2 linked regions of the Homo sapiens genome follow. The protein of the gene in region 1 purifies or fractionates together with the protein of each later gene. This does not show direct contact. Each region holds a gene or a part of one and is shown on either strand. Other genes may lie near its edges. The genes, in order: SMOX and ALDH1A3.

Region 1 (7,268 bases):
CCTTCCTCAAATGCCTTCCCAGTCTTGGGAAGTCCCCCGTAATTAATCGTAGCACCTGACTTATTTTCTATATTATATTTATCACAGTTCACAACCATTTGTTACAATTGTTTGTATACTTGACTTATCTGGCTTCTTAAGGGCCGGAACCTTGACTGAATGGACCAGTGCTGTATCTGGAGCATCTAGCACAGTGCCTGGCATGTAGCTGATGCCCAGGAAATCTTCAGCCAGGTGGCAGGTTGGGGCTGGATTGGGCAGAGAGGTGGGTATTGCAGTGAGCACAGGAGTCCTCTTTAAACTTCAAGTGACCCTGAGGATTTTTATTTTCTTTCCACAAAAGCAACTGTGCAGATTGCTGCAAGAATCTAAGGGCGCCAATGGGATGTGAAAAAGGGAAGTGGAGAAGGTATGCGTGGCTGGAGGGCAGGGCTGTATGCCGAGGGCAGCCGGTGGGATGTGAGTCTGTGTGTGTGTCACTGTGGTTGGGGTAAATGATTTCCTTTGCTTTCTTTGGTAGAAATGCAAGCTGGGTCAGCAGAGGGATATGTGTGCATGTTGGGTGGGAGGGAGATTCTCTAGCTCACAAGATGTGGGCAGCCTGGGCAGCCAGGGATTGATTTCAGCCCACTCTCTTGGGTGACTGCTGGGTACCCAGCCCTGGGGTGGTCTCTCTCTATCTCTAGACTCTTGCCTTTCTACCCACAGCTCTCCTGTTTGCACAGAGGAGCCAGTTGAGTGTTAAATTGTGTGGCTGGTACTCTCAGAATGGAAGGCTGAGAGCCAGGGGACCTCAGATCTGGGAGGGAGGGGAGCTGACCCCTGGACAGGGGGACAGGGGTGGACTGAGGTAACACCGCGACGTGGGTGCTAGAACTAGGGGCAGTGGTCCAGATCTGGGATGGGGCTGGCATGCCTAGGAAAGACCTTGAGCTGGGATAGGTAGGGATGAGGAGGGCATCCTGGGTGGGAGGAATCAAGCAGAGGCCAAGAGGCAGGGCAGGGCCCTGGTATATTCACTGCATGCCCTGCATTGTTCTAAGCACTTTGCAAATGTTAACTCCTTTAATGCTCTTAACAGCTCTATAAGGTAGGTCTTATTCCCATTTTACAGCTGGGAAGACTGAGGCACAGTCATACAGCTAAATAGTGACAGAATGAGGATTGAATCCAAACATTTTACAGACGGGAGGACTGAGTCATAGTCATACAACTAAATAATAACAGAGTAAGGATTGAATCCAAACAACTTGGCTCCAGAATCCATGCTTGAAATCGGTCCACTCTGCCACTTCTCTCATGCCTCTCAGTTATGTGTCAGCCGAGGGCTTCCTAAGAAGAGGCTTTTCCTGCCTCCCAGAGGTGCCTGGCCTTAGGGGCTGGGGAGGTGGGAAAGAAGGTAGAAGGGGTCCTCGCTTGGAGTGGGTGACCGAATTTTTCTGCTTCATGCCCCACTTTTTCTTCCAGGAGGGGCTCCGGACCCAGGCCAATGGGTTGGGCATCACGTACACTGTGATTTTGGGGTGCTGGGAAGGTCTGCTGCTTCTGGTTCAGCTACCGCTTTCTGCCTGAGATGCCATCATTAGAATGTCACCCTTCTGGGTTTAGCATTGCCCTCGTCATCTGCCTGTAAAATGGGATTAGAGGGACTTTTTTTCTTTGCTCCCTGGAGGTCACATGCTTGAGTGCCTTCTCCTTGTAGACTCTGAAAGGAGGAAAGGCTTCCCCTGGGATGCCAGGCTGAGGAACTGGGCCAGGAAGGAGGGAGGAGGGTGTGTCAGCTCTGCCCTGGGAGGCTTTCCTGTTTGGCACGAGGATGACTCTAGGCAGGTGACCTGGCCTCCCAGGGACCTGGCTGGCTGGCTGAGGAACGGTTTGCTGACCACACAGGGATGGGGTCTGTTTTCTCTGAATTCTGAGCCCCAGAGTTGAGGGGATCTGCTCATCTATCTGGACAGATCCTGCCAGCCTCCTAGGAAGAGAGGGAGGCAGGGTTAGTGGAAACTGAGGCACAGGGAAAACATTGCTGTTGGAAGCTCACCAGCCTTCATGGTTGTCAGGAAGGGCTCCCTTCTCTGGCAGGGGAGCATGGGGGAGGCCTGTCCACGGTGCCCAAGTCCTTGTCTGCTGAGTCGAAGTGAAGGCTGTGGCCAAGCCTGAGGCGGGCAGGCTAGAGCTGAGGTGGACTTCCTGACAAGTAGACACTGGGCCTTGTTAGCTGTGGTCAGCACCTGGCATCTCCTGTGCCCCAGCCTGGTGTTCAGAGCCTTTGGGAACACAGGACACGGTTCCTGCTCTCCAGGAAATAAACGTGAGCCATGCCAGGTGTGATATAATGAGGTCCTCCTCCCAGAGGAGGTGGTGCTTTGGGAGGGTTCTGAAATCTTGGGCGGCTTTGGCCGACAGAGGAGAGGATGGCCTTCCTAAGGTGGAGGAGGAGAAGTGGGTTGAAGCCAGGTTGGGAAAGGCCTTGGCTGCCAAGCTGCTGAGTCTGGCCTTGATTCAGTAGACCCTGGGGAGCCTTTGAAGGTTATAGGGCATGGGGGCAATTACTTGATTAGGGCAGTGGTCTATAAAAGTGCTTTTCAAACTTGAATGCACATAGATCACCTAGGCAGCTTGTTAAAATGCATGTCTGTCCTGTCTGATTCACCAGGTCTGGGGTGAGGCCTGTGACTCCGCATTTCTTTCTTTCTTTCTTTCTTTTTTTGAGACGGAGTCTTGCTCTGTTGTCCAAGCTGGAGTGCAGTGACAGGATCTCGGCTCACTGCAACCTTCGCCTCCTGGATTTAAACAATTCTCCTGCCTCAGCCTTCTGAGTAGCAGTAGCTGGGATTACAGGTGCCCACCACCATCTTTAGTAGAGACAGGGTTTCACCATATTGGTCAGGCTGGTCTCGAACTCCTGGCTTCAAGTGACCCACCTGCCTCAGCCTCCCAAAGTGTTGGGATTACAGGCATGAACCACTGTGCCTGGCCTGAGACTGCATTTTTAATAAGCTCCTTGGCAGTGCAATGCTGCTGCTCCATGGAGCACGCTTTGTATAGCAAGGATTTAGACTGGAGTCTTGAGGGACGAGTGCAGTTCAGGTGGGTGGAACAGGGAACTAACTACCTTGGCTCCTGAGGCTCCTGTGTTGCGGGATGTGTAGGGAGCTGCCGGGGTAGGGGGTGGGGGTGGTGCAGGTGGGCTGGGGGCAGGACAGAGGGGACTGTAGAAGATGTGAGATGCAGGGGCCACTCTGCTGGGAGCTGGGGCTGTGTGAGGGCCTCTGGGTGCTTGGGTCATAGACCAGGAACATAGGTCTGATTTCCAGGGCCTCTGACTGTAAGGAGCTCCCAAGACCACGAGGGGGTATCTTGGGTGACTGTATCCCGGGGCAGGGTGACATGCAGACAGCACGGAGGGCACCTTATCTCTGTCCACAGCCGAGCCTGGCACTGTGGGCAACCAATCTGGGGTGAGCACCCTTCCTCCAGCCAGGGCGGGGCCGAGAGATTGGGGAAACAGCTGATCCGGCCCTCTAGCTCCAGCTGTGACGTGTCCTCATAGAAGACGGTAGTCTCCCCAGCTGCCGGGCCATCACCCCAGCGTGTGCAGTGCCTGTCACCCTGGCCCAAGTCCTTGTTGCTGCCGCTGATGGTTACGTGAGCTGCTGTCACTGATGGTTACATGAGCTGCTGTCGGGGGTCTTATCCCACTCTGGCCACCTCTGCGGCGTACGTGGGAGTGGGGGGGGCCTGGATGCTTCTCTCTGCTCTGCCCTGGCTGGGCCACTACAGGCAAGTGTCTGCTCCTCTCTGAGGTGTCAGTCTCCTCATCTGTAAACTGAGGGGTTCAGGTCCCTCCAGGGGGGTTATCACACGGTTTGCTGGGTGGGGCATTGCCTCTTCCCAGAGAGTCAGCTTAACACATTTTAGTTTAATATTAAATATTAAAGTTAATATTAAAACTCACATGCTAATGATGGGGTCGAATTAGCAATTTGCTTGGAAAAAACCATCCGGGTTGTTTTGGGGGTCTCCCAAGGCCCCTTGCACCTCAGGCTCTACATGGCCTGGGGTGCGTATCTGAGGACACTGGTGGGTTGAGTCCCCCCAGTTGCTGGAAGCGGGGTAGCAGTCACTACACCCAAAAGAAGGTACAGAGGGCAGACACAAAGGGCAAAGGTTCCACTGCCCTGGGCAGTGCCATGAGGGGCTGGCAGGGTAGGGGTTGACTGGCTCTCAGTCTGAGCTCCCCAGATATCCCACACACACCTCCTCAAAGGAGGGCAAGGCCAAGCCAATCACACCCCACTTTGATCCCTGCCCCTGGGCCAGGCCGTCCTGCGGGATGGGAGGGGATAACATTTCTCAAAGACTGTTCTGCGCAATCTCAAGCGTTCAGGGGACAAATAAGGGTAGAAACTGGCAAATTCACTCCACTACCCTACGGGAGATTCAGAATACATTTAAGAGAATTAAAGGTCCTGACAAGTCCTGTAGAAAAGAAACTGTTTAGTGTTTCCCAGCCTGATCTGACCGTGGAAATCTTTTTTTTAAATGACTGCCAATAATGTCCCACCCACCAGGAAAACACCTGCTGGGAAAAGCTGATGTGGAAAGATGCTGCTCACTGGAAGGCCACGAACATGGTAGCACAGGTGGACTTCCTGGTAGAGGTAGACTTGGTGGGATGGGCACATTTGGACAATCAGTAGAAGAAGAGGGCACTGCAGAGAGAGAGATGCCAGGCTCCCCTCTGAGGCCTCAGTTTCTTCATCTGTAAATCTTTGCCCCCCATGTCTGCCTCCCCACCTTCCTTTGGGTGTAGCAACTGCTACCCCCCTGCCAGTGCCTGGTGGGACCTCAACTGACCAGGGCCCTCAGATGTGCCCATCCCACCTCTACCAGGAAGCTCCCTGCCATCCTTCCTTTTCTCCCTGGTATTTCTGGGCCGAGAGCCAGCCCTGGGTTCTTGTGGCAATGGCTCTGCCTCACTGGGTGAATGAGGAAGGATCTGGAAGGACCTGTCTGGTGCCTGGGATCCCCAGGTAGCTGGGCCTGGGTCTTCTGGATTCTTTTTCTTTTTTTTGAGATGGAGCCTCACTCTGTCACGCAGGCTGGAGTGCAGTGGCGCAATCTCAGCTCATTGCAACCTCCACCTCCTGGGTTCAAGCAATTCTCTTGCCTCAGCCTCCCGAGTAGCTGGGATTACAGGCGCTCACCACCACGCCCTGCTAATTTTTGTGTTTTTAGTAGAGGTGGGGTTTCACCGTGTTGCCCAGGCTGGTCTGGAACTCCTGGCCTCAGGTGATCTGCTCACCTTGGCCTCCCAAAGTGCTAGGATTACAGATGTGAGCCGCTGTGCCCGGCCATCTTCTGGATTCTGAGAGGGCCTTTTCCTTATACCTCCCGGGCATTTCCTCGCTTTGCAAGTTCTCCCCAGCCTTTCATCTCAGAGGTTAACACAGCAGGGTTGTGAACTCTGGACAATAAGCTAAGCCTCTCTGTGCCTCCGTTCCCTCATTTGTACCATGAGGGTAATATTACCTCCCTCCTAGGGTGGCTGGGTTGTTGTGACACTCTAATACCGGTTGGCTGCTCTTACTACTGGATTTGACATGGCTGGAGGAGGGACCCTGGGGAGGGCCCTGTCATCGTGGACATGAGGGAAGAAAGCAAGAGCCAGCAGAAAGCGGCACAAGGCTTAGGTTGGGGTCCTGGTTAGACCAGAGTAGCCTGCAGAGGAGAAGAAAGAGGGTGTGGGTAGCTAGCAGGACTGGCTTCCTGGAGGAATGGCCAGTTAGGTGGGGAGATCTGGACAGAATGAGAAGTCACAGGTTTGAGTCTGAGAGTCAGAGGATCCTGGTGGGTGTGTGTAGGGGACAAGTGGCCTGCGGGCAGGGAGGAGGCATCAGGGACTACCTTCGTTCACTGGGCTGTGGCAGCCCACAGAAGGTTTTGAGCAGGGCAGTGATGTGATCAGAGCAGTGCATTAGTGAGACATGAGGCAGGGTGTGAGTGATGGTGGGCTGTGGGAGGGGGCGGTGCTGTGCCCCTTCATGGACATGAAGCTGGGGGAGGGGCCAAGTTGCGGACGTGACCCTCATTCTCAGACTCTCAGGGCAGTCAGTGAGGCTACCCTGCCTCGCCTCTGCCACACCTCCTTTCCTCTGTGGTGTGAGGCTCTTTGTTCAGCAGCTCAGGTGGGGGAGATGGGCTGTGGTATTTTTTATTTTTTATTTTTTTTGAGTTGGAGTCTCGCTCTGTCGCCCAGGCTGGAGTGCAGCGGCGCGATCTCGGCTCACTGCAACCTCCGCCTCCCGGGTTCACGCCATTCTCCTGCCTCAGCCTCCCGAGTAGCTGGGACTACAGGCGCCCGCCACCACGCCCGGCTAATTTTTTGTATTTTTAGTAGAGATGGTGTTTCACCTTGTTAGCCAGGATGGTCTCGATCTCCTGACCTCGTGATCCGCCCGCCTTGGCCTCCCAAAGTGCTGGGATGACAGGTGTGAGCCACAGCGCCGGTCGGGGTGTGGTATTTTAAATACCCAGGAGGAGCTACGGTGGTGCGTGGGGCAACATTGGCCCTCCGACCTGACCCGAAGGCCCTGGTGGGGCATGCTCAGTGGATTTTCCTACCCAGCCCTAGCTCCCCTCTCTTGTCCTCCTTTGCCCCTTTGTCTTTCTTCCTCAAGCATGTAGGAGCCCAGTGCTCTCTAAATCTGGGGCTGGGAGGTTGGAGGATGAGGAAAAGCATCTGGATTCAGGTGGAGCATGGTGGCCTAGCTGGGGGCATTGCAGCACCCCTTAGTCCAGATTCCCTTCTTCTCCACCTGCTTCTTGAGGGACGGCATTAAGGAAGGTGTGACTTAAAGTCAGAAGAACAAGAACTTGGAAGTGAGTTGCAATTTATTAGAAAACAGAACAAAGAATCTAGCCACCCCTGCCAACTCTGTGCTAGGCCCTGGCAGACACATGGGTCCTGTCTTCCCCATGCAGCCCCGGGGGCCTGAGTGAGGCATGATGGGTCTCACTCAGTTTCTGGGACATCTGTCTCGATGCCCTTTCGTCAACCCCATGGCTCTCTCAGAGCCTGTCCTCATACCTTCAACTGCTCCCCACCCATAACCAGATCTCCGGGACAGCCCAGCTCAGCCAGCGCACCTCTGATCCTGGCGGGTGGTGGTGATACTCCTTGCAGGCTGAGTTGGCTAGATTTTAGGATGACTCAAGCAGGAGACACCCAGCACCACCAAGGGGCATATATTCTTAGGAAATAT
Region 2 (7,268 bases), on another chromosome or scaffold:
TTCTTTACCCTTTCCAACAGAATATGGATTTTTGCCCATAGGAGAGTTAAAAATGCTATCTTGTTTCATTTTAATATGCATCTACCGCTTATAATAAGCAAGGTAGAACATCTTATTATATATTTAAAAACCGTTTGTATTTCCTTTATTATCAAATGTGCTTTGCGTATTTTTCTTGCAAGCTGTTAGGCATTTTTCTTATCACTTCTAAGACCTCTTTACATACATAGTAGAGAGATTAGCTTTCTATGAATATGACTTGTTAATATTTTTTCCAAGTTTGTTGTTTTGCTCTTTGTTATGATAATTTTGCCCCCACCCCATTTTTTTTACATACTCAAAATTATACATCTTTTCTTTTTTGGCTTCTGCATTTTGAGTCATTAGAAGGCACTCCAAGTTTGCAGGATAAGTCTCCCACATATAAAACTTTTATGGTTTTGTTTTTCCTGGTTATATCTTTGATCTATTTGGAGTTTGGCCTGGTATAAAGTGTGAGGTATGGATCTGAGTTAGTATTTTTAAACTGGGTTTGGAGTTTGGCCTGGTATAAGGTGTGAGGTATGGATCTGAGTTAGTATTTTTAAACTGGGTTTGGAGTTTGGCCTGGTATAAGGTGTGAGGTATGGATCTGAGTCAGTATTTTTAAACTGGGTTTGGAGTTTGGCCTGGTATAAAGTGTGAGGTATGGATCTGAGTTAGTATTTTTAAACTGGGTCCATATTTCATGAGATGATTGGTCAAGTGGCATGCACGGTTTATGCCCTCTCTCCTGCTCCTCCAGGACAGACCGTCATCCAATTGCACCACTGGGTTTGCTTCTTTTTCTGTTTATGATCATTGGAATGAAACCAGTTTTCCCATCTAAAAATCCCAGCTAAAGTAAACCTAGTAAAGCTTTGTCTCTCCCAGCCAAAGAGGAGGGAGACCAGCCACAGATCATGATAAAGGACAAGATTCCCATAGATTTCAGGAAGAAGGACCAGTGGAGGGGGCAGAAAGAGCATTTTCCCTCTTGAGCAGTCTCCCAAAAGGGTGCGCTTTTGACAACTGCTCAGTAGCGTGTTCACAAGCTGTGGGTCAGGCTGGTGGCACAGGGCAAACTCCAGCCAAGGAGACGTCTAGACAAGATAGCAAAAGGGAGAGTCTTTCTCATGAGCTGTTCCCACCACCAACCAAGGAGCAGCCCTGCCACCCCACCTGGAGGCTCATTCTGCTTTGTCCCCAGGGGTGTTGAGTAAGGTGGTTAGCTTTTCTTCTCGCTTCTCTGCACCATGACAGGAGAATTCCAGTAACTATTACCCTGATTCACGGTGCCAACTGAGCAGGGCACAGGGTTGCCAGGTGATACATGGCACCCAGGTAAACATGAATTTCAGATAAACAGTAAATGCACTTTTAGCTTAAGTATATCCCAAATATTGTTTTGGGACATACTAAAAAAAATTATGTGTCATTTTTCTGAAATTCAGATTCACTGGGCATCCCGTATTTTTATTTGCTAAATTTGGCAACCTGAGTAGAATGTAAAGAGTTGGGAGAAGAAAGACTGTGACCACTTCAGACCTGTGTCACTCATGGACTAACTTTGCTGCATGGAAAAGGGAGATAGAAGTGTAAATATGTCCCAAACCTCCAGAGGATGAGACTAGTCTATCTCCCCATCTCTCCCCTGCTCCAAAGAGCCCAGCTCTGTGCATCAGAGGAATATTTGCCTGCAAGGCTCATTAGTTACATGGATCATGGCTTGACAAGAACATGCAGAGGGAGGATGGCTGATCATGTTGAAGGCCACTGAAAACATGAGATGGCAGCCACTGCCCAGAAGGAAGCCAGGCTGTACTTCTTGTTTGTGTCTTGCAGATTGATCAAAAGCAGTTCGACAAAATCTTAGAGCTGATCGAGAGTGGGAAGAAGGAAGGGGCCAAGCTGGAATGCGGGGGCTCAGCCATGGAAGACAAGGGGCTCTTCATCAAACCCACTGTCTTCTCAGAAGTCACAGACAACATGCGGATTGCCAAAGAGGAGGTACAAGGGGGCTGTGGCAAGGCTACGACTTGCGGGGCCTTTCAAACACGAGTCCTTCCCTAGGGCCCAGGGATCCCAGAAATCCTTGTGATCTGAGTGTTTTTTTGTTTTTGTTGCTGTTGTTGTCGTTGTTGTTTTTTCTGTGTGGTCTTTCCCCTCTCCTTTGGGGTCCCTAGGGAAGCCGTTTTGTCCTGCCTCTGGCGAACTCCAAGCATGATACAGCAGGTACCTTGTTTGTTCTAGCTAGTTTTCACTCATGGCTCACCCTCTCTGGGAGCAGCAAGCCCTCTCTGATTTTCTAACACAACCGGTCCCCGAGTCAGTCATGCAGCCGCAGGTGGAGAACTGTTGCCACCTGTGGGTTTTGCCAGGAATCAGTTCAAGAACCTGTGGATTCAGGGCCCAAAGCCGCCTTCAGTGCCCCTAGACTGAATTTCAAGTGTTCACTCAAGGAACATGTCACAGCTGGAATTTTTATTGACATTTTCCACCACGGACGTCTTGAAAATGAGGGAAATTAAGGAGACTCCCCCACTCCCATAAGAGTGTAAATCTTTCTCTTTCAACTCCACTGTTACACTAGACGGGAACTGGTTCCCACACAGCATTTGTAAGAGGAGAGCTGGATCCCAGGAGGTTAGACCCTGGAGGTGGTATTTTGGGGCACATAAAAGGATGAGTCCCTGCCAAGGGCTTTCTGGGGCAGGTATTTCAGAGGCGTCTTCCTTGAGATTGTTATGTGCCGTGATGGCATGAAGCTCAGCTCCTTAAACATCCCTGTGACGAGAGGTCCTGGGGAACCCGGAAGGTATTTTGGCAGGCCAGGCACCATCCTGCCGGCTTATAATTATGTCTAATATTGAATCAATTACAAGCTCCCTTCAAAATCACCTTTAAATGTTCAAGCCTTAGTTCTTCCATTTCCTTTTCTTTGCTGTGTCACAAACTGTGGTGAATATTGTGTCATTCCTTCCCCTGGTAGTTATTATGGAAACGTTCTAGGGTGTCTTCCTTGGTAGAAAACACAGCTCCAAGAGGTAGGAGCACAGTCTTACAAAGTGCCTGCAGATATCCTTCAGGACAACTCCGAAAAAAGTTACCTAAAGGTTTTGTGTTCTGTGCATCTATGGGTTACTCCAAGGCTCTCTGGCTGGGTTTCTCGGAAACCCTGATGACAACAAGACATCTTAAACACAACATATATTTTTTGTTATTATTTTTTATTTTTGTTTCATGTTAATCCTTCCCTTCAGTCTCCAATGGCAATGCAGCTGAAGCAATGTTTGGACGTTCTTTCTTCTCTAATCATCGTTTTTCAGGCATGTGTGTGCTCTGGGCATATGAAAAACATGTAAAGAGAAGGAAATGCTTGTTCACAGCATGCATTTCCATTCAGTCATGCCTCTCATTGCCATTCTTGCAATTAATCATAGATTTTCGGGCCAGTGCAACCAATACTGAAGTTCAAAAGTATCGAAGAAGTGATAAAAAGAGCGAATAGCACCGACTATGGACTCACAGCAGCCGTGTTCACAAAAAATCTCGACAAAGCCCTGAAGTTGGCTTCTGCCTTAGAGTCTGGAACGGTCTGGTGAGTTGACTGTGTGTGTATTTCAGCTCTCCTGAGTTGCTTCTTGCTAAGTTCATTATTCTTCTATTAACTGAGAGTTTCTCATTGTTTACATTGTATATTATATACCAAGCCCTGTCTCAGTGCTTCCTTCCATCCTCATGACCATCTTCTGAGGTAGCTGCCATTATGTCTCCATTTCAGAGATGAGAAAATTGAGGCACAGAGAGATGAAGTGACTTGCCCAGGGTCACACAGCTAGCAGATGGCCGAGAGGGCTCCAGTACCTGTGCCTGTGGCCCCTGTGCTGTACTGCCCCTCCAACTTTATTTTCCATTCTGATTCTAAAAGCAGTTCATGCCCATCTGCAAAATGTGGATACTAGTCTCTGCCTCATCAGTAATTCTGCAGATTATGTTTTGTGATCCCCATATTAAAGATTAATGAATTGAGGCTCAGAGAGGTTGAGCAATAAGCCCAGAATCATATAACCAGGAAGCAGGAGAACTTTGGGGTCAGTTCTGTCTCATTTCAAAGCTAATTCTTATTCCTCTACACCCTGATTTTTCTTTTTCTTTCTTTCTTTCTTTTTTTTTTTTTTTTTTTTTTGAGATGGAGTCTTGCTCTTTCCCCCAGGCAGGAGTGCAGTGGCACACTCTCGGCTCACTGCAACCTCCACCTCCCAGGTTCAAGCAATTCTCCTGCCTCAGCCTCCCCAGTAGCTGGGACTACAGGTGCACGCCACCACGCCCAGCTAATTTTTGTATTTTTAGTAGAGATGGGGTTTCACCATGTTGGTCAGGCTAGTCTTGAACTCCTGACCTCAGGTGATCCATCCATCTCAGCCTCCCGAAGTGCTGGGATTACAGGCATAAGTCATCATGCCTGGCCCTCTCTTCTTTTTTCTCCCCTTATCATTTCATTCCTATCCCAATGAAACACACTCTGTACTTGAGGATTTCCAAATTTTAGTTGCTGATGAGAAGAATGAGAAGACAAAAGTTGAGAGCACCCTGTGTTTTCATCAAGGAAGCTTTGGCAAAAGACTGTTTATTAGACAATGCCCTGCACTGGGGGCTAAGTGGCTGCAGTGCCAGGAGCCAGGGGGTCTTCTCCAGATGACTCTGAGCTTTCTTCCATTCTTTTCTAGGATCAACTGCTACAACGCCCTCTATGCACAGGCTCCATTTGGTGGCTTTAAAATGTCAGGAAATGGCAGAGAACTGTAAGTGTTTCCATCATTCTGAGCCTGCCGTGGGCTGAACACTAGATCCACTAGATTTGCAGGCAGTGACACAGGCTCCAATCTGCTGACACCCCGTCCCCCCCACACCGCCGCTCTGTCTGGGCCAGCTGTGTCCCTCTAGGGTTGGTGGGGACCCATCCCTTCCTCTCTCCAGCCCACCCTTCCCACTTACATCCTCAGCCTGCCCCCCTCCAGGCCTCGGCTTTTGTGTCTGCCCAGCAGCCATCATGCTGGGGACATTCAGTGGATATTTGACAAAAGCTCCCTGGACGGGGACACAGGCAGAACTGAAAAAGTGTACTTTTGCCAGATGTGGGGTGTCATTATTCACACAACTCCCCACTCACAGCAGTGAAGACAGGTAAGGCTGACCCAGGTAAGGCTCCTACCTGCTGGGTCCTTTTTTCTGAGCCTAGTAGGGGACCTCCTCCCAGGAGGCATATGACAACACCTCCTGCTGGGCCTCTGCGGCCCTCTCAGTATATGCAAGCCTACTGCAAATCCCTCCACATGCGTGTGCAAACCCACTGCAAACCCCTCCATGCGCGTGCAAACCCACTGCAAACCCTCCACGCGTGCATGTAAACCCACTGCAAACCCCTCCGTGCGTGTGCAAACCCACTGCAAACCCCTCCACATGTGTGTGCAAACTCCTCAGTGTGTGAACCCACTGCAAACTCCTCCGTGTGTGTAAACCCACTGCAAACCCTCCACGTGTGCATGTAAACCCACTGCAAACCCCTCCGTGTGTGTGCAAACCCACTGCAAACCCCTCCACATGTGTGTGCAAACTCCTCAGTGTGTGAACCCACTGCAAACTCCTCCGTGTGTGTAAACCCACTGCAAACCCTCCACGTGTGCATGTAAACCCACTGCAAACCCCTTTGTGTGTGTGCAAACCCACTGGAAACCCCTCCACTGTGTGTGCAAACCCACTGCAAACCCCTCCACATGTGTGTGCAAACTCCTCAGTGTGTGAACCCACTGCAAACCCCAGTGTGTGCAAACCCACTGCAAACCCCTCCACATGTGTGTGCAAACTCCTCCGTGTGTGTAAACCCACTGCAAACCCCTTCGTGTGTGTGCAAACCCACTGCAAACCCCTCCACTGTGTGTGCAAACCCCTCCACACTTCCTTTTTTGTCCTGCCTGCTGGGAAAATGAGTTCCCTAGGTTTAGATTAATGGGTGGAACTTCTTGCGTCTGGCCCACACCCAGAGCTGGCTAGAGCAACCCGGGAGTGGAGATGTGTGGTTTCCAGCCGGACACTGTCTTCTCTCCCCAGCTCAGGATTTTATTAGCCTGTGTGGACAAACATTTTGTAGGATCAGTGTTCCCAAGGAACCATCTGTGACAACACCCCAGGTTCCTGGGACATCTCTAGGGACCCAAACTCTTCCTTTTATTTCACTAGTCTGTCCTATTTATATACAAATGTAGTCCCTTGTTTGCACTTCTTCCAGCGGGAACAGACTCAAACGCTTCCCCTCACCTTGGGCCTTGGTTGGGGCCTTTGTGTGGCTCTCTTTTGAGATTCTTAAAGATGCTGTGAAGGGATGGGCCTGGCTTCCATCCCCAAACAGATGTTCTTGACCAGTCTATGTGGAATTGGGGTCCTGTCCCCCTCCCACCTCAGTCCTGCTTTGTAGTCCATCCCTGACTCTCAGCAAATACTCCAAGGCGTCTGCACTTGTGAGTGAAGCCTGTCCATTAGCCTTCCCCCTTATCCCTGTGGCTGGCTTCGCCTTCAGCGGACATCAGTAATTGTTGGCCATGAAACCCCTTTGCAGAAATTGCATTTCCTCCCTCTAGTGGCCTGTTTGCATTTGAGTTCTGTGAGCCCCTGCTTCATCACTTCTTACACCTGCCCCTCCAGGGACAGGCAGCCAGGGCTGGGGTCACCAGGGTCCCCTCTTGGGCCCTCCAACAGCAACAGTACTGGCAACAGCTGGGATTTGCTGAGCACAGACTCTGCAGCAGGCTCGGTTGAGCTCTCTATGCCTGTTCCTTCATACCATCCTCACGCCCATCCATGAGATGGGTCCAGCTGTTTTCAGATGAGAAAATGGCACAGGAAGCTGGTAAGTGACAGTCAGAAATGAATGCTGGCAGCTTAGTCCTTGGACCCACCGCAGTGCAGGACCTTGCTCAACAGGGATCACCCTTGTCCGCCACCTGTTCATGAGGCCACCCAGGGTTTGCGTGGTCATTTGTCTCCTTTCATCTGCTGCCTTCAACCAGCTGGGTCATTAGGGCTGGGGAACCCAGACCCCACACAGTCCTCCTCCCAGACGCCAGACACAGCCTCACGCCACAGCAAGGACTCCAGTCCCCGAAGCAAATGTCCCTGGGCGTAGAAGCTGCAGGGCCCCCAATCCCTGGTGTGTACTGCTTTGCACTGGTGATTCACCCTCATTGCAACCT

What was found.
Region 2: the proteins of SMOX (region 1) and ALDH1A3 purify together in Homo sapiens (affinity purification with mass spectrometry; 2 studies listed by BioGRID and IntAct, with this or other methods). This does not show direct contact.

Annotation. Positions count from the first base shown.
Region 1 is NC_000020.11:4,151,684-4,158,951, forward strand, and holds part of SMOX (spermine oxidase), read left to right. Parts: intron 1-3,532; exon of another isoform or gene 3,533-3,783; intron 3,784-6,879; exon of another isoform or gene 6,880-7,268. UniProt on the Homo sapiens protein: Flavoenzyme which catalyzes the oxidation of spermine to spermidine. Can also use N(1)-acetylspermine and spermidine as substrates, with different affinity depending on the isoform (isozyme) and on the experimental conditions.
Region 2 is NC_000015.10:100,903,660-100,910,927, forward strand, and holds part of ALDH1A3 (retinaldehyde dehydrogenase 3), read left to right. Parts: intron 1-1,863; coding exon 1,864-2,028; intron 2,029-3,461; coding exon 3,462-3,619; intron 3,620-4,748; coding exon 4,749-4,823; intron 4,824-7,268. UniProt on the Homo sapiens protein: Catalyzes the NAD-dependent oxidation of aldehyde substrates, such as all-trans-retinal and all-trans-13,14-dihydroretinal, to their corresponding carboxylic acids, all-trans-retinoate and all-trans-13,14-dihydroretinoate, respectively.